Homo sapiens: one gene and its partners. The protein of the gene in region 4 purifies or fractionates together with the protein of the main gene of each other region. This does not show direct contact. Each region holds a gene or a part of one and is shown on either strand. Other genes may lie near its edges.

Region 1 (6,630 bases), on a different chromosome or scaffold from region 4:
GATTGATTAAGAATACTGATTCATGAATAATTTAGAAGGCTAAATATAACCAGTCTTCTAGTCCAATTTAAGAGTAAATGGGAGCTCTAACAACTTGAACTAAGAAAAGAGGCTTTCTGATGGTAGTCACTATGGATAGAATCATCATCAGGGTTGTTGTGGGAACCAAATGAGTTAATAAGTGGAAAGTACACATGTGAGTTAAGATAATGCATGAGATGAGTGCTTAGCACATAATAGGAACTCAATAAATGTTAGCAATTATTATAGCTCTTTGTCACCTGTGGAACCAACAGACCTTTTCTTTCAATAGGTGCAAACAGAAAACCAGCGCTCTCGTTAACCCAGTAGATCTTCTTGTCAAACTCTAATGTGGGTTCATCCTCGGTATCGTTGATAATGACCTTCGCCTGGGTGAATTCCCCTAACAGGGCATAAGCTGGCATGCTGAGCTCCACAGTGAAACTCTCAACATTTTCAAACACGTCATCATCGTTGATGACAATGGTGCAGGACTTGGTGTCCTCTCGCTCATCAAACTGGACCTGTCACAAAGGAACCAACAAGAAGTTAAGCTGTGCCTCAGCTTCCCCTGCTCTGCTTCCCCAGGGCATCATAGGAAAAGAGCATCCAAGTCCAGTGGGCAGAGCACTGACTGAAATAGCTGGTTCTCCCAGCCCTGGTTCCCTGCTGCATCACCTGGAACACCCAGCCACCTCTTCCCATTCTTAACCTGTACAGGAGGGCTGCTTTATTGTATAAGGACATGAAGGAGCAAAATCTCTCCTACCATTGGTGACTGGAGAAAAACATGTAGTAACTCTTTATAGCCTGTCTTATTATCTCACTTGGGGCAGCAACAGTCATCATTTGATGACTCAGTTCCCTTTCTGGAAGAACTCTGGCCTTGGAGTATGAAGTTCTGTTCTCAGATCTGGTTCTGTTACTTCCAAGCTGTATTAGGTTATGAAGCTTTACAAACATCAGATTCCTCATCAACTAAAGAAAAGTCATAATATTCCTACCTCATACGCTTCTTGGGAGGACTAAAGGAGGTCTTGTATATGAAGGTGTTAAGTGTATTTTAAAGTACCAAACAAACATAAGATATTATCATTAGTATCACCATATTACTTACACAATTAAAATTGACATAGAATTCCAGTGTACTGAATAATGGAATTTAAATTCATAGAAAATTACATTATAAACAAGGTAGACTAATTTTAACTTGATATTTTGACTACACCCTTTGCCATTAAAATGTGAATCAATTTAGCCCAGTACAAAACAGAGAAATTATTTTATATGTACACAATTGTGAACTTATAGGGACTTATTCTGGTTTTACTTTGTTTTTTTTTTTTTTTAAAAAGAAAGAAATTAAAAATCTTCAAGTGAAACCACGACTATGGACTTGCCCAAAACTGAAACTGCAGGAAATGAGCCTGGACTATACTTTGTGTAAACGGAGATAACTGAAATATGTACAAAAAACAGACATAAATGTCTGGGGACACACAAATCTGCAAAAATTTTACTCAAACAGAAAATTATTAGTATATATCTAATCAACTAATAACACTTTTATTAAGCTTCATATTTTAAAACACTCCCAGTGAAATGAAACACTCAACAGATCTTTATGTAAGATCTAGAATACACTGACAGTCTTCTGTCTTTCCCTGAAAAACACAAGAATATCCTCCGTCTTATCATTTAGCTGAAAGACATTAGCTTATCTGTTCTTTCCTAATTCCTCACTTACATTTGACATTAGAGACATTAGCTTAGTCCAGCTGAAATGCCTCAATTAAAGAACAGAGCCCACTTCTCTTTACAGAGATCTGTGTTGCCATAATAACAATAAAGTTGCTTTGAAAAAAAAATTAAGTGTCAGACATTGTGCCCTCCATAAAAGATGACAAATACATGGGGCCCTGTATTTGTTGACTATTTAAGTTGACTATTTAAGTCCTCCTTTCTCTTCCACTTTCACTCTCTCCTTTTTCTTTCTCATTGCCACCTTTAATTACCACTGGTATGTAGATGACTTGCAAATTTCTCTCTGGACACCAGACTCCTCTCTGCACTGCCTGCCCATCTATACAGTGGTCAACCTGCTCTTTCTAAGACAATTTATACCTAACATAGCCAAAGCAAAGTCACGAGCACCAAACCTTGCCCAACCGGCTCCTCTTATATGTCCCTTCCTAGCAAGAGGCATCATCATCCATCTTTCAAATGGCCCCACTGTCTAATCAATCCACTGCCAAATCCTATCAATTCTCACTCATCTGTCAAATCCATCCGCTTCTCTCAAACTTCACTTCATAATCGAAGCCCAAGCTCCCATCATCTCAGCCAGCCTACCCCAAGGGATTCCCAACCAGTCTCCTTACACACTCTCTTCTCTCCCTTTAGGTAAAGAAGGTGAGAGGAGAAGAACGGTTGGGATACCAAAGCTGAATATAGAACATGATGCTTGGAGACTTCTTTTTGTCATGAAGCAAAATGTAAAGACTGAGAAGCTAGACAACAACTTCCCCTTTGGCAGTTAAAACTTCAATGGAGGTTAGAGAGACTGTGAAGAACAAAGTACTATGGGAGGGGAACATAGGAAAACTATTTAATACTTGAAGAAGGACACCAGTGAAAAGCAAAGTTGGGAAGAAGTAGGAAAGTGCCACAATTGCTTGCAGCCATGTCACAGCCCTTGCTGGAGCCTCCCCCAACCCCACTACCCCACCTACCTGGCCAGCATACTCTACATAGTCCTGTTGCCCAGGTTGGGAGCTGACCCTGGAGCTGGAGCTGGCGGTGCCTTGCTCGGTGCGACACAGGACGATGGCATATTGGTTCAGGTTCCCAGTCCTCTGCACCGTGACACTGACAGACCCTGCCTTCTCACTGACATTGTAGCTGGAAGCACACAAAAAGGCATCTCTTAAACTATGCCCCATGGTTATGAAAAAACAACTTGTTTAATGCCTGTCTCTTCCATTTGGTTCTTGGCATTAGGTAGTCAGAGAAGAGGAAGTTTGGTTCCTCTAAGAATCCAGGCTGTAAATTGAGGGAATGAGTTCACCTGAACAATCAGAGCACGAAACAAACAGGGAAGCTGTGGATGCAGAATGTCGTCTTCCCTGCTTTGCAAGCAAGCTAAGAGTCATTTTGGGAGATGGACAGCACATAGGAGCAATGAACTTCAGATTTCAGGGCACAGAGAAAGGAAAAACAATCTCTCCCTCCTGGGGTTGAGTAATCACAATAGGTCAGTGGGTTCTTAGGGAAGAAAGCTGCTCTGAAGGCAATCAATGACTTAGGTGGGAACTGACTGGACCAGATCTCCAGGAACTGTGTGATGGAGTCAGAGCAGAAGCAGAGGTAAGAAAATGTGAGGTAAGCCTACATAACAGAGATGTTTAGACAAATAGAACTTTATGACAATGGGGGAAGGACATGATTAATTTAGCTTGCTGCTCAGAATCTCTATTGCATTTGTAAAGTAGAAGGCCAACTATTCATATGCTATTGATTCATAATAAGTATCTAGGTTTGGAAAGGCCACAGAAAGTAGGGCATGAGCTGGGCTTTGTTTTTCACCACTGAGGATGGCCCCTAGACCTGGGTGCATGTCTTGTTGCTGTGAGGACAGCAGGGAAAGTGACTCTGAGAGCTCAGTCCTCATTGCCAGCTTTGGGACCGTCTATACCACTTAGTCCATTAAATGTTAGAGGGTTGTCCAGAAAAAGGGATGAATTTTATTGAATTTATTGAATTTTGAAGGTGATACAATTGAGAGGTAAATAACAGCAAAACATTACATATGTAAAAGTTGATTCTAATTTTCCTCTAATTCTCCAAATGTGTGTAAGAGTAGAATAGCCTGAATTTGGGGCACATGAAATCAAGGTTTTAAGTCTTCCTTTTTTCCCCCAAGTTCCAATTTTTATCTGAATTTTCATGAAGTTGATTTCTTGGATAGTGAGTCTCTGAAATGTAGACTTAAAGAATATTTCCCCCACATAAATTATAATCCTAGTTATAATCTAACCTATAAAATCAGCACCATGCTTGCACACTACCTTTAACAATCAGTATCTCTCTGTTTGCCTTTCTAACTCTCCAACAGATTAGAAAAGCATCTTAAAGGGCTGTCCACATTAAGCCATGCATTTAGCCCTACAGATATACATTCCTACCAAACCCAAAGAAGCCAGGGGAGAAAACAGGGTTGGGAACAAGGAGAATACAGATGGAAGGTGAAGATATTGATAGTGTGGGCCAGTGATTATTTTCCAAACTTGAATGCCTATTTTTATTTTTCCTATCAGTTCTACTAGACTCTCTTCTAAAACTTGAAGAGACAGAAGCAAAAACATTTGTCTGAGCAGCAGTAGAGCACATCGTTAAGATCACTGGGCTTACATCCTGGTCTTACTTCTTATTAGCTATGTGACTGTGGACAAGTTACATAAACAAGTTTCTGTCTCTATTACTTTGCCACTGTGGAGACAGGAATGGAATTCATCTCAGAATTCCAAGTATTATATAAGATGATGCATGTCGAGTCCTAGTGCAGCACCTAATACATACAGTACTCAATAAATATTTGGTGAAATTATTACTTTTATCACTGCCATCATCACCATCACCGCCATCAAGAGGTGACTAGAGCTGCCCCCCAGCATCCTTCATCCTGACTCCCTCTGCTTGCCTGATTGATTTCTCAAGAAGGAAAGCACAGTAAAACTTGTACCTGGTATATTTAAAGCTGATGAGTGACCACTGGATATGGAAGACATTGTCGCTGACCACATTGGGTTTACTGTCTTTCACCAGAAACTGAAAACTATCCATCATCTCACGGATCTTCTCCTTGTGCAACACATAACGAATCAACCCCAAGTTCACATCCTCTGTGAGAAAAAAGACTCACTGTGAATTAACCCAGGGATGTAACGACAGCTTCATAGATTACCACACCAACAAACCTAGTTTATTCTTCTAATGTATTACAGACAAAACTTATTTTTCCAAGCACCAAAAGTATAGTAGTTGTTAAAATAAATGTTTCTGTCAGATTTTAAAATAAAATCCTGAAGCTCTGTGAAAAAAAAGATCTGTCTTTAAGTACAGAGATATTGTAAATATCTCTTATGCTGTTATAAAATGAGAATCCCAGGGTCCTGACAAAAAGCACTTCAATAAATGTCTGTGAATGTTGATGGCAAATCCTAGAGTTGACAGAGGAAAGTCTTTGACTCCATCCTCTGTGTTTATAGCCTCATACTCAGACCTAATTCCTTCTAATAAAGGTTCTTTGGAAGGTATGTGCTAATAAGAATAGCTGGGGTTGGGTTAAAACTTCCCATACACAAAGCACAGCTAAAAAGGTGTGAGGAGAGAACATACAATTGAGGACAGAGAGTAAAAAGAAAATTCATGGAGCATGAATTTTGAGATGCAGTTTTGCAATGACTGCTCCCAGTCAAGTCAATCCTGAAAAAAGTCTAGAGGAGCCTGACAAGCTTAACATGGCCTGCTTGAGATGATTCAAAACAGGGAAAATATTTCTGTTGAGCAACCTATACATGTTGATTTTAATTTCTAGGCTGAAGACTTAAAGTCTATAATCCTTAGAGAACAAAAAATAAATCACACAGGATCACAGATCTTTCATAATGTCTGCTTGTTATTTTTTGCTTTCTTGTTGTTATTGTTTTTAAAGAAAACCAAGCAGCATCATGCATTCTTTTCCAGAAAACCTGGCCAACACTTAGAGCAATTTAGGAGTTGAGGAAGCACGGTAAAGGTGAATTTTTCTTTGCCATAGTTCATCATCACAGGGAAAAAAATCAGGAGAAATAAAATTCTTAAGTTGGATGGTTAAGCACTAGAAGATCTCTGCAAAGTGGTTACTTGGGCATAAGTAGCTGGAAGTGGCTGTGAGAAGAATCTGGGAGATAGGCAGTGTGACATTAGCATAGATTTCTCCCATTTCTAAGTTCCCAGAGAGTCCCCACCCTGGGTGAAAGTGGCAGCAGCTCTGCCAGGCTGCAGCTTGTTCTCCACAAAGCCATGCTTAGGGCCCGTCGTTATCTCATAGACAAGCTGCGCGTCCTCGGTGTCTGGGTCCATGGTCAGCAGTTCCTTCTTGGTGATCAGGTTGGTTGCCTAGAATAGAAACCCATTTAATTTAATTCCTGAGGTGGGAATAAAGCAGGAACAAGACCCTCTGACTCAGATTTAATTCAGTTCAACAATGATTTACTGAGTGTATTTACTGCATGGAAAGCTCTGTCAGGATTGGAGAGGCTATGAGGATGAAAACCATTCCAGCTTCTGCCCTTGAGGTATTCACACTTAATAGGGAAAGAAAGGCTCATGCACAAGGTCAATGTGGCAAGAGCTGTAATGGAAGACATAAAAAGAGGGCTGCACACTTTTTAAGAGAAAGAGAGAGAGAGAAAAAGATTAATTTCATCTGGAGTTGAAGGAGGATGGATTGGAGGCAGTGGGATTTGAGTTGGGCCTTGAAAGAAAGTTGGAACTTTGAAAGAATAATTCAGTACAGGGAAGGTGGCCACTTTCTAGGAGTCAATTATGATACTTGAAATAGAGTAA
Region 2 (6,630 bases), on a different chromosome or scaffold from region 4:
TATTTTAAATGAATTAATTGGTTAAGTCATTGTGTTATATAGGCTCTAAGTTTCTTTAGCACTACAAACTGCATTTTCATCTTATTCTGCTTCTTGCTTTTGAGCTTGTTTATTATAAGGTTGTATTGTTTTCAAGTTCTTCATTATGATGAAGTTGTTGAGAATTTTCTTTAGTTTTTATTGGGTTATGTATCCTTCCAGAATGGGTTCTTTGCCACTTGTATGCCCTATTCATTTCTTCATTTTGTGTTCTTTCTTGCTTTTTATTCCCTGTATGTGTGTATTTCTTTTTGTCAGGCTGTAATACATATGCATACAAGTTTCTTCTTGATATGGGAGAACTTCTATGTGGTGCTGATGGGAAATATTTTTAATACTCCACTCTCCTTACCCAAGTTTGTTTTTCTCCTGAGCCCTAGTTTGAAAGCTGTATATTGTTGGAGTGGAGGGAAAGAGAAGGGAAAAGTGGTGATTCAGAGAGCCAAATGGGGCAATGTGGCTTTTAGGCTCTGCTCTCTTGAAGTACCAAGTATTTCACTCTTGGGTCTGCCCAACTGCTTATGAATAAAATTCCTTTGCCTTGTATGGGGACATCATTCGACCTCAGACCTCTCATTTCTCTTTGTTCTGAGCCCTAGAATGTGACCTGACCTTCTCCTTCCCAAAGCATGGAGATGGTTAAAACTCACTCTTGAAATTTTTTTGTTGACTTTTCCCTCTGTTGCTTATTCATTCCTCGGCTCTACTTTTTGCCATTTTGGAGTGTATTTCTGGTAAGTGTTTAGGATTTTGTAAACTATTTCCCTACAACCTCTTATTGGAGGTAGGGGTAGAGTTGGGAATGACCATCAATCACATATAACTTTGTTTCTTATTTTGACTATCAGTCTTCAAAATTTATGGCAGGCCCTTTTATATTTGGTTGCTGCTAATAAAATGTTGGCCTTTTTGTTTTATTTTTTATTTTTATTTTTTGTTTTATTAGATTTTGAAGAAGGGAGATTCTAAAATGTAGTTCAGGTTTTCTCAGTGTCAGCACAAATAACATTTTGGGTTGGATAATTATTTGTTGTGAGGGGGTTGCCCTGTGCAGAGTAGGATATTTAACAACATCCCTGGCTTCTACCCACTAGATGCCAGTAGCATTCCCCTAGTTAAGACAACCAAAAACATCTTCAGACATTGCCAAATATTCCCTGGGGAGAAAAGCACCCTGGTTTGAGAGCCACTAATCAATTTTGTTCATTCATCTTTACTCCTCCTAAATACCTACATCCAAATTTTAAATAGATCTTTCTCATGTAGTCTGGCAAGTATTATATCAAAGATAAATACCAGTTTTAGAATAAAGCATTAATATACTCTTACATTTCAACTTAAGAGGCAAATATTAACAGTAGGATTTGTAAACTATTTATTAGACTAAAAATCAATGAATTTTTAAAAATTACAAAATGATTTATGTATGTTAGATATTTTACTGAGTGAAAAAATTCATGCTTTTTTAAATGACTTATTGTTTGGAGTAGTGATACAGTAGATTTAATTTTCCCCCTCATTAATTAAAATCATGTTTTAGCCAAGAAAGTGAACAGAATTCTTATTGGCAATTCAGTTGTTTCCCATTTTGGAGACTGACACTCTCCAGTTCTAAGTTAAATAATTGTCATGGTAAAGTAATTTCCTTGAAAAGAACGGACATTGATTCAGCCCCTGTTACTCACAAATCCTATTTGAGTCAAATTGGAAAACTATTACGTTTTTGGGAAAAAAATCAATAGGTATCAGGAAACCATTAGATCTTGTGGCCCTTGCTATATCTTGCATGAGTAATCACTGTAAACAGCTGACCGGTATTTCATTGTTGACACAGAGTGATGCTTGGGGGACCACATCTTGTCAGAGCAGGTGGACAGCTTTAGACGTTGGAATGAGTTTGATTATCCTTGTTTTTCTCCTACACTCATTCTTTTAGACAGCCCTGTCACTAACTGGGCCTGTGATGCTTTCAAAAATCAAATACTTTCCTTGCTGTCAGTTTTCTTTTTCTTGCGTTGTGGCATACTAATCAGGGTATGTGGTTTGGTACTGAACCAATTTCTGTCAAAAGCAAGTTTTAATTTATTATTTAGGAAAAATTTTTCCTAAGACCCAGGTTTTATACAGTCCTAAATAAATAGTGTGAGGAATAATTAGTAATGCCATAGAGTATATAATTTTACTTCTAGTTCTACACAGATTACAAGTAAATTTTTTTTGGGCAAGTGATTTTGGAATTATCTATGTTTTGTTTTCCTTTTCCTTTAGAGTGATAATTCACTATTTATGATTGAATGATTATCATATTAAAGAGGTGAGAAAATAAAAATAAGTCTGATGTGCACAAAGCCATACTGCTCAAATTGTTTGATAATATCTGTTAATTAAATTATTATGGCATCGGTAGAAGAATGATGTTTTGTTTATATGTGGTTAGAATTGGTCTTTTTTAAAGGAAATAACGAGAGATGGAAATGGAATGGGTATAAATAGTAAAAGGTTCTATCACTATAATTCCCTTTTGCTATAAATAGTTAAAGCTTCTATCACTATAATTTCCATAAGAAGATATATGTGTTTACCTGTTAATTTTATCAGGGCAAATTAAAACATGGATAGAATCATGTTTCTCAGTGTGAAGAAATATTTTTATTTGATGAATATTATATATTTTCAGGTGCAGTGGCTTCTATGTTTTGGGTTGATGCTGAATTAGGGAGTGATATTTACCTTGATGGTAAGTTAAAAAACAGTTTTCTTTTATCTTTCTTGGTTTTTTTTTTTGTTTTTTTTTTTTTTTTCTGAGACAGAGTCTCACTTTGTTGCCCAGACTGGAGTGCATGGAGTGCAGTGGCATGATCTCGGCTCACTGCAATCTTTACCTCCTGGGTTCAAGTGATTCTCCTGCCTCAGCCTCCCGAGTAGCTGGGACTACAGGCGTGCACCATCGTACCTGGCTAATTTTTGGATTTTTAGTAGAGACGGGGTTTCGCCATGTTGGCCTGACTGGTCTTGAACCCCTGACTTCAGGTGATCCGCCAGCCTCGGCCTCCCAAAGTGCTGGGATTACAGGCGTGAGCCACCACACCCTGCCTCTTTTGTTTTTTAGTAAAATCTTTATGGTTAAGCTTATTGTTGTTCATTCATATTATAACTTTAATTCCTTGCATTGTTGTTCTTTTCACACTTTAGTTTAATGATGAAATCTTTGTTCATATAGATTAAAAAACCCCAAACAGTGGTGGAAATCGATGTCACTCAACTTCCAATTTAGTGCTTCCACTAAGGTTTTCTTTAAAAAAAAAAATGCTTTGTAGGTTTTCTGTATCCTCTGTTGTTTGATTTATGCCCTTAATATAATGTTAGAGCCTTTTATTTTAATCCTCCAGGCAATATGAGGATCATATTTTTGCTTTTATTTTCTCTTGAAGATAAGAATTAAACACTCCTCCCTTACTTTATTTACCTGAACACTTTTGGGCAATGATATGCCTTCATTTAAAATATATTAGAAACTTTCTTAGTTAAGCGACTATGTTTTCTCCCTTTCTCTTTCCCTTTTTCACCTTTTTAAAAACCAGTCGAAATTTTCTTACTTTTTCAAAAGTAATAATCATTAAGAAATTTAAGAATTATTAAGCTGGGCCCCATCATTGAGCTCTAATATATGTGGCGGGTAACTGGTTGAATTCCTTAGCATAATTAAACTCATTCTTTTGTTATCAGCATATATTCAGAGATTGCAAAATGAATTGGTAGTTTGGAAACTTAGGCATATGTTATGTAAAACATTTATGAGCTGGATTTGGATTTGGATTTGGTGAGAGATGTTAGGAATGATACCTTAAGATGTCTCATTCTTTAGGCAATAATTTAAATCTTAAGAAAAGTCTTGATTTTGATTATGTGAAAATAAACTAGAAATAACCTGTCTTATGTACTTATCACATTTGACTATGTTATGAAATTTGACTTATATTTTGGATTGTAAGCTTTTTCAGTGCCAAGGAAATCTTATTTTCTTATTTATTTAATTTAAAATTTTTATTTGTTTTATATCTTCTCTAGTGCCTTAAAATAGTGCTAGCCACTCAGGAAATGCATTGACTTATTACTGGAATTTAATTAAATGGCAGCACTGGCAAGAGAAAAAAACAGTACATTGTTTTATTGAGTAGTATTTGTGAACTGAAATAGGTTAGTTTTAATTTTCATTCTGAAGTATGGTTGCACAAGTATTAATAAGCATTCTTTTTAAAAAGTGATTAAAATGTTTTTTCCTTTGTAGGTATCATAACTATTGTGGATTCAAAATATGGATTAAAAGTAAGTTGAAAGATTGCTATGAGTGGCTCATTATTGAGAGCTGGGAATATGGGGATTGATTGTTTAATTTTCTTTATGTTTGTATCTGAAATTTTCTTTAACAAAAACCTTTCTCAAAAAGATATCCTGAACAATAGGTGAAATTTGTGTTTTAATTATTAGTTTGTGTTAAATATTTCTTTTCTATTACTCTGAGTTTGATTTGGTGATAAAATTTGGAATTATAATTTGTAATAAGCATATGGGGTTAGGATAGAGTTTGGTATGTATAGCTCTTCACAAGGATTCAACCCCAATATTGCTAAGTTTTTCTGTTCCATAGAAGAAGCTGAGCTTGATAAAGCATCTGAGATCTTATTTTTCTTGTTAAATTACTATTAAACACACACTGGAAATGAGTTTTTAAAAAATATTGAAGACCTAGGTGATGGGTTAATAGGTGCAGGAAACCACCATGGCACCCGTTTACCTATGTAACAAACCTGCACATCGTGAGCATGTACCCTGGAACTTAAAATTTAAAAAGTACATATTGAAGAAAATCAGGATATACACATAGGATTAGTAAGAAGACTCTCTCCATTAAAAGGCATCTTGCATCGCTTCTTGGTCTTTTGGCTAAGATCAAGTGTAAAAGACATCCTGCTATGAATGTTTTTGTTAACTTCTAAGGTCCTAGAATGCATTTAAATGAGGTTTAATTTATAAAATGCATTTAGTAAGATCTTTAAAAGTATGTTGTTACATACAGTAAAATGATGTTTCTCAACTTCCCAGGTGAAATACCACTAAAGGCAGAAGAGAATGAAATCATCCCACCCACTGACCCGTTCCCAATCTGAGCATATGGATAGGGCCCAAAGCAGTAAGTTCTTAGAAGTTTAAATTCAGTGTTTAAAAATTAGTGTCTGTTTTGTATCCAACCTCATATCTGAACGTGTTAATTTTTTTTTTTTTTTTGAGACAGAGTCTCACTCTGTTGCCCAGGCTGGAGTGCAGTGGCACCATCTTGGCTCACTGCAACCTCCACCTCCCAGCTTCAAGCGATTCCCTTGTCTCAGCCTCCTGAGTATCTGGGATTACAGGTGCACACCACCATGCCCAGCTAATTTTGTATTTTTAGTAGAGACAGGATTTTACCATGTTGACCAGCCTGGTCATGAACTCCTGACCTCAAGTGATCCACTTGCCTCGGCCTCCCAAAGTGCTGGGATTACAGGCATGAGCCACCACGCCCTGCCTGAACTTGTTAATGTTTAAGTTTGCTTTTTTTTCCCAAATCTTTGCTGAAATTATGCTCTAAGGGGATATGTCAGGTTTGTCAAATAGCTACCAATACCTCTTCACTGGGCCTTCTCTCCCTCGTTGATAGAGTGCCCTAATTTGAAAAGTTTGGAAGAAAACTCCTTTTTTAGAGTTTAAAATCTCAATTTATGAATTTATGAATATAATTTAAGAATCAAAGAATGATCCCAAATACAGTATTACAGTTTCACGCAGAAAAATTCCAATGACTGTTGGAAATCATATTTCTTGCAAAATGCTTATGGAGGTAGCAAAAAAGCCCCAAATTATTCATTTTGAATGTTTATTATAGGCATGTTTGAATCTACCTCTTCCATAAATTTATTACAAAATTTGATATACCTATGTGACAGATAACTGCTAAGACATTTTGTTTTTTTTTTATTTTGATAGACTGAAAATGCCATGCTAAAAGTCAAACTGTTTATGTATTTTATGATTATAGGAAAAATTTTATATGTATAGTTGGGTATGGAGAAGAGTTAAATAGAATCTATTATCAGCATGACGGAGGCCAAAAAAACAAAGCAACATTCTGAATAATGCAAACACAGTAAACGTTTAACCTTCTGCTACCTTGATAAAACCTCTTAAATTATTAAATCAGTATACCTACACAAAACTGACACACTGTCAGGATAATGGAAACTTTAAATTTTCTAAGTCGGATGCCAGATAAATAACTTTGCCTTGATATAAAGAATTTTCCAACTTGTCCAATTCCTCTGGTTGCAAAGCTTGACCTCAGTAGCTGCTTGTGATTCAGAGAATTCTGAGGCAGTACAAGTAATGACACTTGGATAATGGGCAGCAATTTAAGAATGTCATGCTTCACAGAGCCAGCCCATGACAAGTAAAGCTGAGAAATGGTACCCTGTGGCCAGCCAGCCAAATTGAAACTGAAGTGGTAATTGATATCATGGGGTATCACTCTAATGGGATTGTCACCCATTGATCTGA
Region 3 (4,841 bases), on a different chromosome or scaffold from region 4:
CTTAAAATTTCTACCTCCCTGTTGAAATTCCCTATCTGTTCACACTTGTCTAGTTTATGTACTGAGTTTTCAATGTATTCATCATAATTATTTTAAATTCCCTGTCTCGTAGTTCCAACTGTGTCATATCTGAGTCTCGTCATTTTGTTTGCTTTGTCCCTTGACCAAGTGTTGTTTTTCTTGCATCTTTGTGTACCATGTAATTTTTGGTTTAGATTTGGGCATCTTACGTATAACAGTAGAGACTGAGATAAAGAATATTTGTGTCTGGAAATGAGCACATTTCTTTTGCTAGGCTCTTAGTAATGGGATTGAATCAATCTAGTGAAAAGTTGAGCTTCTTAAGTTTTGTTGGTGCCAGGATTACCCTTAATGCACCACAGGTTTCAGATCTTTTATTTTGTTTTGTTTTGTTTTTGAGATGGAGTCTCACTTTGTCACCCAGGCTGGGGTGCAGTGATGCAATCTTGGCTCACTGCAACCTCTGCCACCTGGATTCAAGTGATTCTTCTGCCTCAGCCTCCTGAGTAGCTAGAACTACAGGCGCCCGCCACCACGCCCGGCTAATTTTTGTATTTTTGTGTTTTTGGCCAGGCTGGTTTTGAACTGCTGATCTCATGATCCACCCCCTTGGCCTCCCAAAGTGCTGGGATTACAGGTGTGAGCCACCGCACCCAGCCTCAGATTTTCAAAATACTACCTTCTGCTTAGAATAAGGGAATGGTTTGGTAGCTAGTTTTTCTTTTTCTTTTCTTTCTTTTTTTCTTTTTTTTTGAGACTGAGTCTCACTCTGTCACCCAGGCTGGAGCTCAGTGCCACAATCTCGGCTCACCGCAACCTCCACCTTGCAGGTTCAAGTGATTCTCATGCCTCAGCCTCCTGAGTAGCTGGAATTACAAGGGTGCGCCACCATGCCCTGCTAATTTTTGTATTTTTGACGAGGTTTTGCCATGTTGGCCAGGCTGGTTTCAAACTCCTGACTTCAGGTGATCTGCTTGCCTTAGCCTCTCTAAGTGCTGGGATTACAGGCTTGAGCCACCGTGCCTGGCCTAGAGAGTTTTTCATCATAGCAGCTCAGTTTTATGTATTCCCTCCATAATACGCCTCAAGAAAATGTCTCTCCCACTTGTGTCTCTCAAGTGTCTTGCCCACCCCTAGCAGAGTGCTCTTGTTACCTGACATTTGCTAACATGGCAGAGAAGATGCGGAGGTTGGGGAAGCATTCTATGTTGTTGTCGTACAAATTCAGTCTTAGGCAGGTGTTGTATCCCTGGGTCTCAGGAGTGTGGAATTTTCACTGTTCCTCTTCCCTGACTCTCATCAGTAGGGGAGATGTCTAGTGATCAGGACTCAATATGTTTTCTTGCTCCTTCTGCATGATAGATAGCTTTTTTTGTTTGTTCTTCCTAATCTGTAGTTGCAATGAGTCTTCATATGTGTCCTAATGACAAGGTTTGCTGCCTTTCTCCTGGCTTGAAAACTTGTGTTGTGTAGAGGAGACCGAGAAGGATCTAGATGGGGCTTTGTGGCTTCCCTGTAGCTGGTGCTGCTTTCAGGACCATATTAAGAGAGAGGCTTTTTCGGATCTCCTTCCCTGCACTCTGTTTTCTCTTGAGTGCATGGTAAGGTCTGTGGAGAAGAGCCTGTGAATGAGCATGAATTGTCTTTGTGTCTGTAATTTCTAGGGCTTCTAAACTCTTACGTCAGCCCCTACATGGAGTTCAGCAATTTGTTTAAATCTTTACCTAAATTATTTTTACCAAATTGCATGGCATTTCCTGTCTGCCCTGGATTAGAAAGTGTTCTCATTCTGGCTTTCCTTGGAAACACCTGTCTTTCTTTAGGTTTCTGGTTAGTTTGTTGCTCTGCGACCTCAGCTCTTTGATAGTTTCAAGAAAAGTCATGATTATGCAGATAATTTGGCTTTTGTTGTTGTAAGGGTGGGAGTGGTGCCCTTTCCACTTTTCTACAGCCTAAGTGGAGCAGGGAATCTTGCCATACTGACCCTAGGTTTTTAACCTTAGAAGTAATACTTCTGTGAACATCCTAAATCATACATCCTTCTACCTTTATGTGATTAATTCTATGGAAGAAAATTTTAGAATTAGGTTATCTCTATCAAAGGTTATGCAAATATATAATTATTAGAGGTTCAATTACATTCTTTTCCAAAAATCTTTTATCAATTAATATTTCTACCAACAGAATGAGAAAGTGTATGCTTTAGTTTTTTTCCAATCTGATAGTTCAAAAATTAAATTTTGTAGGTTTGAATATTAATATTATTTCTCTAATTTCTACTGAACTTGAATATCCTCCCATATGTTTATTAGCTATTTATAAATTCTAATTATTTTATTGAATTCTTTGTCTTTTTCTTTTTTAGTAGTTCATTATTTGAGCTACTAACACTTTGCATTATAAATTGTTAACACTAATGTGATATCTCTGCTTTAAGAAAAAAATTACATTTTAATTGTGTTTATTTGTAACCTAAAAAGGGCGAGGTAAGGTGGCTCACACTTATAATCCCAGCACTTTAGGAGGCTGAGGCGGGCAGATCCCAAAGAGCTAGAGCCCAAGAGTTCAAGACCAGCCTTGGCAACATGGTGAAACCCTATCTTCACAAAAAATACAAAAATTAGCCAAGCCTGATGGCATGCACCTGTAGTCCCAGCTACTCAGGAGGCTGAGGTGTGAGGATGGCTTGAGCCCAATATGTTGACACAGCAGAGAGCCAGGATCTTATCACTGCACTCCAGCCTGGATGACAGAGTGTGAGCATGTCTCACAAAAAAAAAAAAAAAAAAAGTGCTTACTACATTAAAATACATTTTTAAATTTTTATGTAATTAGGAGGTACAAGTGCAGATTTCTTACATGCATATATTGTGATATATTGTGTAGTGGTGAAATCTGGGCTTTTGGTGTACACATCACCCAAATAGTGAACATGATACCCAATTGGTAATTTTTCAACCCCTACCCTCCTCCCACCCTCCCATCTTTCGTAGTCTATATTTACTACATTTGTTTGTTTGTTTTTGAGACAGGGTCTCTCTCTGTCATCCAGGCTGGAGTGCAGTGGTGCAATCATGGCTCACTGTAACCTAGACCTTCTGGGCTCAAGCAATCCTCCTGCCTCAGCCTCCCAAGTAGCTAGGACTACAGCCACATGCCACCATGCCTTGCTAATTTTTATGTTTTGCAGAGACAGGGTCTTCCCGTGTTGCCCAGGTCAGTTTTCAAATTCCTTAACTCAAGTGATACTCCTGCCTCAGCCTCCCAGTGCTGGTGTTACAGGCATGAGCCACTGTGCCCAGCCTTTTTTACTGTATTTTTAAGGACAAATTTTACAAAAATGATTTCCCTTTTTCTAACACAAATTGATACAATGCCTAGTTCTGTTCTGCCTATGAAAGATTTTTTTAAAGTTATAAATGGGGTGAGGATTAAATTAGGATAAAACTAAATCCATGGTGATTTGGCCAAAGGAAAAAAATCCTGAAAAGGTAATGAAAATAAGAGTTATATTGTATCTAAAAAAATTACTTTAATAAGTAATTAATCATTTCATGGATAATTTGTAAGTGATCTACTTTGTAATTAATATTTAATGTTACATTTTAACTTCTATACATTCGTGTGTTCATTTTAGTTTGAGTTTAATATTCTGTGTTAAATTTACTTATTTCAAGATAAATGTTTAGGTGATAGAAATTCCAATTACCCTGATTTGAGCATTACACATTGTATGCATTTATCAAATGACATATGTACCCCAAAATATGTGCAATTATGATATATCAATTAAAAATTACTTATTTCACAATGATTACATATAAACATTCTTTTTTTTTTGGAGACAGAGTCTCACTCTTTTTCCCAGGCTGGAGTGCAGTGGCGTGATCTCAGCTCACTGCAACCTCTGCCTCCTGAGTTCAAGCGATTCTCCTGAATCAAGCCTCCCGAGTTGTAGCTGGGACTACAGGTATACACCACCATGCTCGGCTAATTTTTTGTATTTTTTTTTCAGTAGAGATGTTTCACCATGTTGCCCAGGCTGGTCTCGAACTCCTGAGCTCAGGCAATTCCAAAGTGCTAGGATTACAGGCATGTGCCACCGTACCCGGTCTATATATTTTTTTTCTTCTGGATGGGAGTTACAGGATTATAATGAAAAACAGTGACATTATATGTGGCTAAGTGGAAGAACATCTTGTCAAAGGAAAATGATTTTCCTTATTCACATTTACCCTTTCAAGGGCTCCGTGTGGTATTTGGGCTTTGCTGTATGTTACATCATATTAAATGAGGAAGACTTCATTCAGATTATGAACTAATATTTTTAGTAATCCAACTATTCTGGAAACATATTAATTCAACAAATATCTATTGAGTGAGTGCTGGGGAAAACAAAGCAATGATAGAGATATATACCTCCTAGAGCTTGCATGTTAGTGGGATAGACAATTAACCTAGTAATTAAGAAAGAGAATGTGAAGGATTATGACAAGAGATTCACAAAACAAGGGTTCCTATTCTGATTTCAAAACTAACTGCTGATGTCAGTGTATTTCTCTAGTATCGAACTATCCAACTCTCCTATGTATATAGATCATATTTATCCTTTGGAGTGATGATGGCAACTGTACCCAGATTTTCCCTAAATTATTACAGTAAATTTGTTGAATTTTCAAACGTGTGCTTGGAAATATGACCACTCTGAGATTTGAGCATTGGTGAATGTGCAAGGGAGAAGGAAGCACTGTTAAAGAGCAAACTGGGAAAATCCATGATAATCCTTAACACCACAATCCAGAATTCTCTTCTAGGAAGAA
Region 4 (6,630 bases):
ACCAATAGGACATTACAAGACATGATGCAAGGAGAGGCTTGAAACTCACATATGATTGCACGTTTTTCTATTTCCACCATCATTGCAAGCACATGCTCCTGCTAGCCCACTGATCAAAGGAGGATGAGAGACACCTGGGGCTGACCTGCACCAAACCTAAGCCTTGAGCCTTAATCCTCTGACTCCCAGCTGACTTGGAGACATAAGTGAGAATAAGGTAGTGATGTTTTAAGCCACTGAAATTTGGACTGCTTTGTTACACAGCATTATTGTGGCAATAGCTAACTGCTACAGCCCTATTCCAGCTAAAGTATAGCATAATCCATTGGATGGGAAAAAGGATCCTTATGCAAAACTTTATTGTCCCTTCTACAAAGCAGCCTTGCTATGCCAGCGGCAGTCAGCCCAGAATACCCTCTTTCACATTTCTTCCCTAAGGATCTAGTGTCCCATATCAAAATCCACTTATCTCCTCTTCCTCTTCCTTATCAACATCCTCTGCACTCTCTAAGATGCCCAATCATCCCTAGTCTTGCTGTGACAATGTACTTATAAACGAAGCACACCATTGCAAAGTTGTTTTCACTTTTTCATTCCACTCTGTTCTTTTTGTGAGTTTCTTATTTAGGGTGTTTTTTTTAGCATATTCATTCAATCAAAATTACACTCTTTCTAACACTCTCCATAATGGAACAGTAAGTAACAGCAAGAATTTGCCATAGGGACATTCAACACATGTTATTTTCTCTTTCCAGAAGCAATGTTAGCCAAACCTAGATTTCAGGAAACCAATACTTATCTCCAATATGTGAGTGTTATAGTTACTTAGGAATACTCAGTGAATGACAAAAAGAGAATCAGCATAAAAATTTACATTACTAAAGTTTCAGGCATAAAATTATCCTTCCCACTGGCCAAGTTGAACTCCCTGACTGTTAGTAAGACATGCAAATACTTAAGACATCTTTATTTTATAAAAACATCATTTCCACTCATATGCCTGGCACATGGTAGACATTCCACAAATATTTACTGAGATGAATATGTGTCTTTCCTTTTCCCAGGGAGAAGATGCCTCCTGAGAAATAAACCTGTCTTCCTTCAGCACACGTTACCCCATTGACCAGCCATGGTTGTTTCCCATCTTCACTAAAGTTGTTCTGAATGTGGTAATGTGATTTCCTAAGCAAAGTATACGTTCTTCCGTGCATTAAAGGAGGCATGACACATGACAGAAATCAGTGAATTTTTTTTATTCCATCTCCTTCTACTCCTCCCAAGTTGTCTCAATACAATTCATTTTCCAGCACTGCTGTAAAATTGAGAATGTTTTTGACATTCTACAGTCAAAGGTGTGTTCAGAAGCACTTAGAAGTCACCAATGTGAAGAACTCACCATGTGTCACAGTCATTAATACGGTTTGTCAAATATTTCCATCTCTCTGCCTTCTGAGCGCATGGTGGGATTGCACTTCCTGGCCCTTTGTGGCTAGATGGGGCAGTGGGTCAAGGGGCTGCAACTAGAAGTAATATGTGTCACTTCTGGGCCAGAGAATTTAAGTGCCAGGGTGAGGCGCTCTCAGGCTCTCCCTCCCTCTGTCATAGTGATTCCTAACATTCAAGATCGGATACTCAGCCAGCTTCATCCCCATGTGGATTTGACCCCAGATGAACCAGGCTGGTCATGTGGTATAAGCAATAAATAAGTCTCTGTTGTTTATGAACCACCAAGATTTCGGGGGTGTTTGTTTTCACAGCATATCCTGGCCTAACCTGATAAAGTATCTGACCAGAGTATTTTGCCATAATTTACCATGATTTTACAAACAACCTAACATAAAATGAAAGCATAGGTAGCATTTCTAAGGCTCTCAGGGATGAAGGAAAACATCAAGATGTTGAAGTTTTGTCCAGACCCCTGTGCAGCCAAATGCTACTTTGCTCATCTCTCTTTCTGTTACCAACAGGCTGGAATAATGGGCTCAGATGACTTCCTTCTATACCTCTGGCTCCTAAAAGGGAACGCCTTATAGGATGGCTTGTGCCTGGAAGGACAGTGGAGAAGTCTTTGATACATCCACACAAACCCTATCCTATGCCCACAGGAAAATAGCACAGGGTGAATATACTGCCTTAAAAATGCTTTAGAATTTTTTTTAAATCATGAAGTCAGACAAGCCATCATGAGAGTAGATGTTGGAGATGATTTAATGCAGTAGTTCATATCCTGATCCTGGGTATCTAAAAATCCTGAGGTCTAGTCCATCAATCAGTCAACAAATACTGTTTTTAGTATCTACTCTATTACATACAGGCTTTTCACTGGTGATTGGGATGCTGCAGTAAACAAGACAATTAAGAGCTCCTTTTCTCAAAAAACTTGTATTCTAGTAGACGGTGACAAAGCAATAAATGTATACACAGGCAAATAAAACATGTCAGGTATGGATGTGTACCATGATGAAGATAAAACAGTGTAATAATTTATATATAACACAATTGCCAAACTATGACCCATGGGCCAAATCTAACCTGCAGCCTGTTTTTGTATGGCCTGTTAGCTAAGAACAATTTTTTACATTTTCCAATGGTTGAAACAATTTTTTTTTTAATTTCATGATGCAGGAAAATTACATAAAATTCAATTTTTAGTGTCCATAAAGTTTTATGGGAGCACAGTCACACCTTACATGATCTTCTCTGGCTACTTCTCCAACCTCAACAACTGCACTTCTGGCCTCCACTCACCCCACCTCCAGCTGCACCGGCTCCCTGGCTAATACCCAGACATCGAAGCCAACTTGCTGCGCCCACCATGGCCACTGCACTGATGGTTGCCTCTGTCTCTCTTATTACCTTCAGGACTCTGTAGAGACATAACTGAATCAGAAAGGTCTCCTCTGATTTATTCAGTACTGTATCCGCTCCCCCTACTTGATTTTCTTCATAGCATTTATCACACCTGACATGTTACACATTTGCATATTGTCTGCCTCTACCCATCACACTTGGAATGCAAATTCCAAGAGAATTGAAACATTGTCTTATTTCCTGCTGCATTCCCAGCCCCTAGACTTATTTCCTGCTTCATTCCCAGCCCCTAGATCAATGCCTAGATATATTGGTGCCCAATAAATACCTGTTGAAAAAAATAAATGAATGAATTGTCAAATATTGGAAAGCTCTAATGAGAGACTAGGCAGATTCTTTATGAACTAGGACATCACAACCAGCTAAGGCTTTCATGATGCAGTAGCAGGGGGCCTCAGGGTGTGTTTGCTGTATAATGCCCTAGTGTCTTGGTAGGGACTGCAAGAACTAGTGGCAAGGAAGACAGAAGAGTGAACTTACCACCAGAAAAGCAAGGGAAGAAGAAATGCTTCCATGTCATCTTTGTCTCATCTCAGTCACATTCCCAATTATATACAGTTTCCACTCTCTCTGTTCATCCTAAGTTGTAGAAAAAAGTTGAGCCTAGAAATGTTCTCAGAAACAATTTTACTGTCATTTGTGTGCCTATTTCTGTAGCACCTCTATCCAATTGTGGTAATAATAAATGTATCTGGGAGTCCCAGATCTTATTACCTCAAGTTCTACATGGAATCATGTGTGTGGACAAATACTATATTCTCATTCCAGAAATTGTCTCTGGGATTTATAGTAAAGGTTTATCCACAGGTCTAAAACAGGATTTTTATGTTAAGAAATAAGTCATACAAGGAAGTACTATATTGAAGATGTAAGATATTGAGGATTCTATTGTATCCTGGGTACCAATAATACGCTATAGTGATATAAAAGTTTCAGTCACCAGTTATAAGTGAGTAACTGGATTAAAACAGATGTGTATAGAAGCATATAATTCAACACACTTAACTACAAGGTCATAAATAAAGAAGAAATTAATGGGAAGTATTTCAGATGTCTTTTGTGCCAAGGACTGTGTCTGACAGAAAAGTGGACAAAAGCTTGCTGGGCCATTTGACCAACATCAAAGTCAATGGACTTCCCTGTACATGACTTTGGAACTGGAAATCGGGCAGGGAGAAGGAGTGGGACTGCTTCCTGGAATTAAATATGGAAAATACACCTCAGTCCTTGTTATTTGATTCACTGTAGAGACAATTTCAGGAGAAGGCAAGTAACACAAATGTAAAGAAGTCTTGTGAGCCATGTGGCTTCTCATGAAAGAAGTATCCCACATTCCTGTGGATCTTGGACTGATTCTAGTCTTACACAGAATGTGAATGACTCCATCACCCACCAATATTCTTCTACCAGTGTAATTAAGAAAGAGGGTGGATAAAAAAAGACAGTACACAGGGAAGATAAAGCAGAAAGAAACAAATTCTGTCAGAAAAAAGTTGTGAAAGCCTACTATGGCCTGGTATTCCTTTGTTGCAATAGTGACATGTCTTCATTAGTGACATTGAAAAGATTTATGAAGGCTGGCTTTCCCCAGCATCTTCAGAAGACTCACAGAATTTCTGGGGGACAAGAATTGTTTATTAAATAAACCAGAAATAGTGCTGGCCAGAAGGCCAATGTGAATGAGAGAAGAGTGAGGATGTAGATACTTATTTACCAAATGTCCAGAGTGTCTACCACATTGTACTTAGGGCTGTCACATACAGATATGTCTATATGCATGGAGCACCCTAGAGTTGTGCAGTGCACATCGTGTACAACTGTATATGACTGTCTGAGCTGTATTAAAAAGCTGGAGAAAATAGAAACAGAAATAAATTCCACATCTAGGCCGTAATCTGATTATATTAATGAACGATGCATAGGTACTGGGTTAAGCTTATTTCTAGAGGAAAACGTGTTCTTCTTAGACTGAGAAACTTAACAGCTAAATAGTATACACAGTGGATTTGAAATCTTAAGTTGAGATTTTCAAACAGATTTGTCTCAGTTCACATGTTCCATGCACTGCTGACTCCAAACAGCTATCCTTGCAAACACAAGTGGTAAGACTAATGAAATTAGGAGGCCTTACACCCAAATGGCATTAAGCACAATCGTCCAGAGCACTAGTAGCTATTTCATGATTGCTACAGGAAAAAAAAAAATCTTCACAGATACCTAGAACTATCGTAGAGGCAATGCTAGTCTAAGCTGGAAAACTGGACAATCTTCAAAGCTAGAAAGTGAAAACTGGGCTGGGGGTGGCTGGAGGACAACCTAGGAGCAAAATTGGCATCACCATCCATTCTGGAAAAGAGGTGGTTAGAAGAGGGGAGGGTGAGGAGAAAGAAATACATATGGACCAAGTACCGAGGAAGACCATGAATTTCTTATAATAAATAAAACATTTTATTTCAAAAAGTAAAAAAAAAAAAACAAAAAATTCAAATACCACCACCCTAAACCATTACCACCATGAATATGTTTTCACACTACATTTTAATTTTAACAAGAAGAACTTTAACATTTAGAAACATTATTTCCTCTTAGATTTTCTTTTCTTAAAAGTTGGGGAAAAAAGAAAACTATAACCAATATTATATATCTCATTATCCCTTACCACTCAGTCATATCTATGCCAAAACTTCTGTTTAGCTATAGGCAATCCTTTCCTTCATATCAGAAATAATTTAATTGAGCGAGGGGTAGGGTGGATATAAGTTCAGTATATGTAGCTTCACTTTTTAAAGGAAATTCTGATATATTCTGAAAAAAAATTGCTAATCGTATTAGTAAGTATATAATGCTGCATCCTCCACGTGTAACAACTTGTTTTCTGTCACATGCAAATTCAGCTGCTTTCCTTCGTTACTCCATTCAACAAATTTATATATTAACAGTACATTCAAAGCATTTAAAACTTCACAGTGCCAGCCGGGCGCGGTGGCTCACGCCTGTAATCCCAGCACTATGGGAGGCCAAGGCGGGCAGATCATCAGGTCAGGAGATCGAGACCATCCTGGCTAACACAGTGAAACCCTGTCTCTACTAAAAATACAAAAAATTAGCCCGGCATGGTGGCACGTGCCTATAATTCCAGCTACTCGAGAGGCTGAGGCAGGGGAATCACTTGAACCCGGGAGGCAGAGGTTGCAGCGAGCTGAGATTGCATCACTACACTCCAGCCTGGGTGACAGAGTGAGACTCCGTCTCAAATAAATAAATAAATAAATAAATAAAACTTCACAGTGCCCAGGACACCTGAGACATTCTTGGTGCTTGTGCTCTTTGAAAGAGCTGAGCAACCTAAAGAATATGACTTATGTCCAACAATTCAGTCTCCTTTATTATACCATCAGATAAAGTGATGTTTTACAAGGAAAATGGAAATATTTTAAAACTCGAGGAGCCCAGCACATCTAAAGGATTTCTGTTTCATGAACTTACGAAAAAGCTGGACAGTCGGAAAAGTCTTACTTGCTTCAAACAAGTCAGACCGTTTTCTCCTGTTACCTATGCTTACAGTCAGATTCCCATTTACCTACAATCTGGCCTTGAGATCCAATATCAAGGCTGGTGGCAGTAAAATGGAGCCAAACACTGTGATTTCTCCCATGTAAATTTGGAATTTGAGAAGTTAGAAAAGTGCTGGCTGCCAGACAAGGTGACTTCCCACTCACCTCCAGCTCAGTGTTCAACATTTTTAAATATCAGCCCCCA
Region 5 (7,275 bases), on a different chromosome or scaffold from region 4:
CCTCCTGGCCCCTGTGTCATCTATTCTCACCACAACAGTAAGAAAAGGTGAGGCCGGGCACAGGGGCTCACACCTGTAATCCCAGCACTTTGGGAGGTTGAGGCAGCAGGATCGCTTGAGCCCAGGAGCTCAAGACAAGCCTGGAAAACATAGGGAGACCTCTACAAAAAAATGAAAAAAATTAGCTGGGCGTGACAGCTTGCACCTGTGGTCCCAGCTACTTTGGAGGCTGAGGTGGGAGGACCACTTGAGCCTAGCAGGTCAAGGCTGCAGTGAGCCATGGTCACACCACTGCATTCTAGCCTGAGTGACAGAACAAGACCCTGTCTCAAAAAGAAAAAGGTGGGTTACATCAGGTCTCTCCTCTGCACCCAACTCTCAACAGCCCCACCTCAAAGAAAATCCCAGGTCCCTTCCACAGCCTCCCCAGGCGGCCCTCCCTTGCAACTCCTCCCTCGGTCTCTGCCTGCTCCAGGCCTGGTTCTCATGGCTTTTCCTGAAGTGCTTTGGCCTGTTCCTGCAGGACCTTTGCCTCTGCTATCCCCTTGTCTACAAAGCACCCCCATGGCTCACTGCTGCGCTCCTGTGCCTGGCCCCTCCTCAGAGGCCTTCCCCACCACTGAGGGGAAACAGCAGTGCCTACCCCTCTTCCCTTCCCACTGGGCTCTGTCTTCCTTGCCTGGCCCTCCCCTGAAGCATGTGTATTTATCATGGTCCAGCCCTCTCCCCTCCTGTCCTACCACTTCCTGCCCTAGAACAGTGCCTGGCTCGTAGTACCCAACCAGATTTGTTGAACAAATGAATGAATAAGCAGCAGCCCAGAGAACACCTGCTAGGATGAGGGCACAGCCCTTGGCAGGGCTGACAAGCTGCCGGAGGACCCGAAATTGTGGATTCTGCAAATGGCCACTCTCTGGCCTTCCTGTATCTTCCCAGGGCCAGAGCCCTTGCCCTGCCTGCCCCAGACTGGCCCTTCCAACTGCCCATCCCTGACTGCTACTCCTGCAGCCTGCAGGGCTTAGCCTGGCCATCACCAGCTCTGGGAGGCCTTTCCTTGGCTTCACCCAGCTCAGCAGACTTCTCAGCTCCAACTGCCTGACACACACGACTGCTCAACAGCCACAGTGTGAATGAAATAATGAATGAACAAGTGAACTCATAAAACCACAGCTGCTGAGGGATGGGGTGAGGACCTAGGCCCACCACCCTCCCTGCCATCCTCCCACACTAGGGCCCGGGTCAGCCCAGCCCAGGAGCAGGGACCCAATAATCACTGAGGGCCTGTGGGTGTCAGCCCAGCACACCTCTCAGCCCATCCCAAGACAGTGAGGACAGGAAAGCAGGCTCCAGCCCCACAGGAGGAAGTCCCACCTCCCCCGTCACCACTCCCTGCCTCACTTCGAGCCCCGGTCACACTCCTTGACCACAGTTCCCAGGATGGCAGCCAAAGGGAAGGCAGAGAAGGGGTTCCTTCCTGACCTGCAGACAACAAGCCGCGATGAATCAGGAGGCGGAGCCAGAACCCACCCCCAAGCAGCCCAAGCCCAGACCCTGGGGCGCCTCGCCACCCTCTCCCTGGAGGGTCTGCTTAACAGTCCAGAACGAACCTGGATGCGGCCAATGAGGAGAGAGACTGCAGCCCAACTCCCATTCCGATGCTCTGAGTGTGTGAGGGCAGAGTGCACGCAGTCCCACCTCCCAGGCCTCGGGCTCAGCAGCCTGGCGCTGGTCCAGCCCCCTCCCTACAGCCCCCAGGTGCCCGTTCCTCCATCCTCGCTCCCAGAAATCCTCTCAAGAGCACCTGGCCCAAAGCCTCCCTCTGCTTTACAGAATCGCTGCTGAGGGCAGCACACCTGGGGGCAGAGGGGACACTGGGGACTGCAGTTAGGCCCCTACTAGTGGCACTCCTCCCATAGGGACGCTTTCCACACCCCGGGCCAGACCCTGGTGGTCACAGAGGCCTCCAGGGCCAGCCTGGTCCTGACACAGCCGAGCGCCCGGCCTGGCCTCCCCACAAGGCCCCACACTCTCGCCTGTCCACTGTTCCCACTGTCCAGCCTTGGTGCTCACCTCTGAATGCTGAAAGCCTAGAATAGATTCATCCCCAGCCCAGCCCCAAGTCCTCCTGTCTTCCAAGCCTCTGCTGAGGCAGCCCCTCTCCCCATCAAACCTCACCTTGCCCCTTTCTCAAGTCTACGCTAGATCTTCCAACACTACCTCTAAAGCACCCCTTGACCTTGGCCTCATCCAGGCGCTGGCACCTCCTGTCTGAAACCTGCCTGCCCTGTTGTGGCCACACATGCCCGGCCATTTCTCGTGGTCCTCCCTCCGCTGCCTGTCAGTTCAACATCGTCCCCTTCTTGGCCTCCCATTCAAGCCTCCCACAGCACCATCAGCACCGCAGGCCCACTGCTGCCCCCACAGGCAGATCACTTGGCCTCTCTGAGCCATGATTTCCTCATCTGTAAAATCTACTTCGAAGACTCCTGCGAGGCTGTAAAGGCAGCAGGTACCCAATGGCTGGCAGACTGCGAGTCTGTTCCCCACTCTGCCCTAGCCCTGAGGCCTCCCGCCCTGGGGAAGCTGTTACTCCAGCATCAGCCTGGACTCCTGCCTCCAGCCTGCCCTGCTGGGAGGGGCTCCGTGCAGGCCGTGGCTCTGCTCCGAGCTTCCTGCGTGTCGTGTTGCGGCAAGAGGCGAGCAGGAGAGGGGCTGAGGAGAAGAGCCAGGTGGCCAAGCAAAGGGACTGCAGGGAAGGCCAACTACTGACCCCATGTTTTTCTGGGCCTCAATTTGCCCTCAGCTCAGTAAAACTGAGATTTCTACAAGTGAGGCCTAGAGCCAGGGAGAGGAGAGTCCTGCCCCAGACTGGCCCTCCCGACTTTACCACCTGGGGGCCGGAGGGGCTGCCTGGGCCCGCAAGAGCAAGCCTCTGGTGCACTGGGAAAGCTGAGAAACAAACACACCAGAATCCGAGTCTGAAAAGCCCAGAGCCCGGGTTGCCATGGCAACCTGCAGCCAGCTCCAGCCCGGGACTCCGCCAGCCTGGGTAGGGGCCGGGACTCGCCAGGCACGGCTGCTCCCAGCTCTGAGGCCTCCTCCTTGGGCTTGGCCCTGTTTCTGCTTGGACACAGAAGTGGTGCAAGGCCACAGAGAGGCACTTCTCCCCTGTCAGGTGGGCCAGGCAGGCCTGGGCTCCCCTGGGCTCCCACTGCCAGCTTTCTCCCAGAGTAAGGCCTGGCCCCTGGGCCTCCAGAGTCCAGCACCTCTCAGCACCCCACCCCGGCACCCATTGCTCCAGCACCCATCACTCCAGCAGCTGTCAAGCCCATCAGCTGCCTGGGTCACCACAGCACCAGTGTATGGACAGGCCTCAGGCGCCGGCCAGGTCAGCGGCCTTGAGGCTGTTATGTGGGCACCGATAGAGGGGCAGTGAGATGATTCCCTGCCTTACCTCACAGCTGGGGGGTGCCAGCACTAGTGTGAAGCTTTCTACGTGATTTTTCTCCTTTAATGGCACTCCTGACAGATGAGGAAACAAGCTCAGAGCAATTAAGCGACTTCCCAAGGTACAGAGCTGCTGCTTGGTAAGAAGCAGAGACTTGCAACTCCTGGGCCCAGGTTCCTGCCCTGGAGCCTGTTCCTGGATGCCCTGGGCTGAGCCCTGCACGTCAGCAGAGCCCATCACCCAACCACTCACCTGACCCCCCGGCCACAGGGCTGTGCCCAGTCTACACAGACACACAGCAGAAAGAGGATGGCCTTCAGGTTTCCATTTAATGGCCAAGCCAGCACTGCCAAGATGTCCTCCTGCCTGAGAAGCCCACCCACGCTGGCACCCCTCAGCCTCACTAGCGGCATCCCAGTCCAGTCCTGGTGTGGGGCCTCATCTCAGCTCCTTCAGCAAGCTGTTGACAGAGCCCAGCAGCTCCTGGAAGTAGCCCTCGTCCTCACCATCCTGCAGCTCCAGGCTGGCCAGCACCTGGTACTCAGCCTGCAGGCTGGCCAGTGTCCTGCCGAGCTGGGGGTCCTGACGGTAGCGGTCCCGGCAGGTGGTCAGGAGGACGCCCAGTGTCTGCAGCACCTTCTCACGGGCATCATGCTCGGGCAGCGCCAGGAGGTGGGCCGTGATCTCGCACCAGCCCTGTTCCCACAGGCCTGGCAGGAGGTGTACCTGGCGATACTGCTGCAGCTTCTCTGGGGACATCTCCTGGGTCAGCTCAGCCTCCTCCTCGGCGAACATCTGCCATCCGCCACAGCCGCAGGCCAGGTAGGGTGGGGGTGGGGAGAGAACACACAGGGAGCAGTTAGCTCACACCTGGCTAGCTCTGCCCTTCAGACAGGAAGGCACGAGGCTGACCCCTGAGGGCCCACCTCTTCCTCTATCCCCAAGTCTGTCTGTCTATTCATTCATTCATCCACCAACAGAAACACTTGTGTGGTGCCAGGTGCTGAAGAAACCACGATGGAGACATAGTCTTACCCTCAAGGAGCTTAAGGTCTAGCAGGAGAATAAAAATTAACTAATTCCCAAATAGCATAAATGTAATCTAACAGTGCAGCATGGAGGCAGACAGGCTGGCTTCAAATTCCTGCTCCACCACTGACTTGCTGAATGACCATGGCTGGCACTTAGCCTCCCTGAGACTCATCGTCATCACCTCCTAAGTGGAGAAACTCAGCCTGTCTGTAAAGCGCAGAAGCCCAGCTCTATCAGCAGAACATGGTGGGAGCCAATCCTGCCGGGCTACCAGCAGCGGGAAAGCCAACACCTGAACCATGACAAGCAGGCAGGTTACCTGAAGGTCAGAGGTAGAGGGTTGGGAGGGGGCAGAGATCTCCCGTGCAGCTGTAGGAAGTGTGCCTGTATGGAGAAAGAAGGAATGCCTGCCCTAACTCCAGGGGAGAATGAAGCACAGGGAAGATGCACAAGGCAAGAGGGAAGCCCAGGAGAAGAGGAGGCCACAGTGGACCACCTGTGCTTCCTGCGGCAGCAGGAAGTCGTGGGGCTGATTGGGGCTGGCAGAGGAAACTGAGGAGGGGTGCAATCCTGCATCCTGGGACAGGAGAGGCTGAGAGGTATCCCCTAGTCCTTTCCTACTTCACCCCTCAGTCCTGCCAGCTTCGCTTCCAAAACACACCCCAATTCTGTCAGCTCCACCTTTGTCCCTTGTGTCCTGCGATCCAGTGCCTCCTGCTCTCACCCTCTCCTCCAGCCCCCAAACCCTCACAGCCTGGCATTGCGGGTGATAAAGACAAAATCAATCCCTTCCCTGGGACTGCGAGGCTCTGCAGGCTCTGCCCCCACTGTGCGCGGCCTGGACCCACTCACACCCACTCCTGTCACTCTAACTCTCCCCTGGGGCCTCTGGAGGCGCAGCTCCGACTTCCAGGTGCACCCCCGCATTGGCCCCATTCACTCCACGGCTCCCTGCACACCTCACCGCCACTGACCGGCCTCCCCTGACTGGCCTTCTCTGCTTATATGCTGCTGTGGTTTGAGTGTGTTCCCTAAAAGTTCAAGTGTTGGAAGCTTAATTCCCAAGGCAGCAGTATTGAGAGGAGCTGCCTAGGTCAGGAGGGCAGCGGGTTCCTTACGGGAGAGCGGTTGTTATTCTAGAGAGCAAGCCCGGCCCAGCATGCTTTTTTCCGCAAGTGCTCTTGCCCTCTCACCTTCCACAATGTTGTCATGCAACACAAAGGCTCCCGCCAGATGCACCCACCCAATCGTGGATTTCCCAGCCTCCCGAATCATGAGCCAAAAACTGCCTTTTCTTTATATTATCCAGTCCCGGGTATTCTGTTAAAGCAGCAGCAGACAGACTACAACACAAGCTCAGGGGAATTCTCTGATAAACATCTGCCTGAAAGCTCAGGGACGACAGGGACTGCGGATTATTTTCCCAGCACCCGGCACAGCAGGCAGCACAGGCAGGCAGGGTCCCCCTGCGGCCCTTCAGCTCCTCAGATGCACCAGAGGCCATGGAATCCAAACCCCAGGCAGGCATCTCACCACTGCAGAAGCCCAGATGTCAGGGCATGGTCTCTCAGTAGAGGTCCTCTCACAGGCCAAGGTACATATGAGGACTGCCTGGGGCCTGGCAGACCCCAGCACCCTGATGGGGGTGTCACATTGCCCATGGGAATTCCACAGTCCTTGGCTGTCATGACAACATGCTGCAGTGATCCCCGAGCTGCATGGCACCCCTCCATCGTGGTGGACAGCTCATGTCCCTCCACCTTCAGGCAGCTCTGGACCCACCCCTAGCTTGGCTAGGTCTTCATTCTTAAGCGCTGCAAGAGGCTGGACTTAGTGACTCACGCCTATAATTCCAATACTTTGGGAAGCTGAGGCAGGACTGCTTGAGCCCAGGAGTTCAAGACCAGCCTGAGCAACATAGTGAGACCCTGTCTACAAAAAACGAACAAAATTAACCAGGCATGGTGGCATGGACCTGTAGTCCCAGCTACTCAGGGGGCTGAGGTGGGAGGATCACTTGAGTCTGGGAGGCAGAGTTTACAGTGAGCCAAGATCGTGCCACTGGGTGACAGAGAGAGACCCTGTCTCAAAAAAAAAAAAAAAAAAGAAAAAAGAAAAGAAAAGAAAAAAGAAAAAAGAAATCACAAGAACAGAGAAGCCCTGACTGCCTCAGCCCAAGTACAGTGTGTCCTAAATCTCTCTGGCTGAAATTTATCTGCTGTCCTCCCTGAAAGAAGAGGGCCATTTCTGTACTGTTTGTAGAGAGATGCCAGTCCTCCCCTCCCCAATCATGTCAGCACCCCAAAGCTTCCAGAGGCAGGCTCCCGGGGCCGGCAGCCTCGGGGCAGCCTTGGTGAGCCTGCCTGGTGGTAGTGTGCTAGCAATGTGTCAGTGCCATAGTGCCCAGGATGCCAGGGCTGGGGGCAGCAGGGACACACACCCAAGACACCAGAGAACAGAGCCCAGTTTCCCTGGGAAATGCCCAGCCAGCTGACATGTCCTTCTCCAGGCTCACTGGCCCAGTCCCAGAACCTGAACTGTGCCCAGGCCTTATCAATTGGATCTGAGCACCACATGGCTGCCTGCTGTTCTAAGAAACTGGATTTCTGCAGCTTTAACAAGAGAAGAGAGAGAAACAGGCAAAGACAGAGAGTTGGGGAGAGACAGTGATGGACAGAGGTGGCCACAGCCATCCCGACACTGCCTGGGAGAGAAGGCCTGGGGGAGGCGTGTGCAGAGGGAGTGAGGGGCCCAGCCTCCACCATTCGGCAGCAGTTCCAGCGGCTGCCCAGCCC

The links.
Region 1: the proteins of VEGFD (region 4) and FRAS1 purify together in Homo sapiens (affinity purification with mass spectrometry; one large-scale study listed by BioGRID and IntAct). This does not show direct contact.
Region 2: the proteins of VEGFD (region 4) and ZNG1C purify together in Homo sapiens (affinity purification with mass spectrometry; one large-scale study listed by BioGRID and IntAct). This does not show direct contact.
Region 3: the proteins of VEGFD (region 4) and PROS1 purify together in Homo sapiens (affinity purification with mass spectrometry; one large-scale study listed by BioGRID and IntAct). This does not show direct contact.
Region 5: the proteins of VEGFD (region 4) and SIL1 purify together in Homo sapiens (affinity purification with mass spectrometry; one large-scale study listed by BioGRID and IntAct). This does not show direct contact.

What each region holds. Positions count from the first base shown.
Region 1 is NC_000004.12:78,471,730-78,478,359, reverse strand, and holds part of FRAS1 (extracellular matrix organizing protein FRAS1 isoform 1 precursor), read right to left. Parts: intron 6,181-6,630; coding exon 6,030-6,180; intron 4,923-6,029; coding exon 4,763-4,922; intron 2,923-4,762; coding exon 2,754-2,922; intron 546-2,753; coding exon 299-545; intron 1-298. UniProt on the Homo sapiens protein: Involved in extracellular matrix organization. Required for the regulation of epidermal-basement membrane adhesion responsible for proper organogenesis during embryonic development. Involved in brain organization and function.
Region 2 is NC_000009.12:68,254,205-68,260,834, forward strand, and holds part of ZNG1C (zinc-regulated GTPase metalloprotein activator 1C), read left to right. Parts: intron 1-2,716; coding exon 2,717-2,776; intron 2,777-4,327; coding exon 4,328-4,365; intron 4,366-6,630.
Region 3 is NC_000003.12:93,879,527-93,884,367, reverse strand, and holds part of PROS1 (vitamin K-dependent protein S isoform 2 preproprotein), read left to right. Parts: intron 1-4,841. UniProt on the Homo sapiens protein: Anticoagulant plasma protein; it is a cofactor to activated protein C in the degradation of coagulation factors Va and VIIIa. It helps to prevent coagulation and stimulating fibrinolysis.
Region 4 is NC_000023.11:15,376,197-15,382,826, forward strand, and holds part of VEGFD (vascular endothelial growth factor D preproprotein), read right to left. Parts: intron 1-6,630. UniProt on the Homo sapiens protein: Growth factor active in angiogenesis, lymphangiogenesis and endothelial cell growth, stimulating their proliferation and migration and also has effects on the permeability of blood vessels.
Region 5 is NC_000005.10:138,943,231-138,950,505, forward strand, and holds the end of SIL1 (nucleotide exchange factor SIL1 precursor), read right to left. Parts: intron 4,244-7,275; coding exon 3,887-4,243; 3' UTR 3,494-3,886; downstream 1-3,493.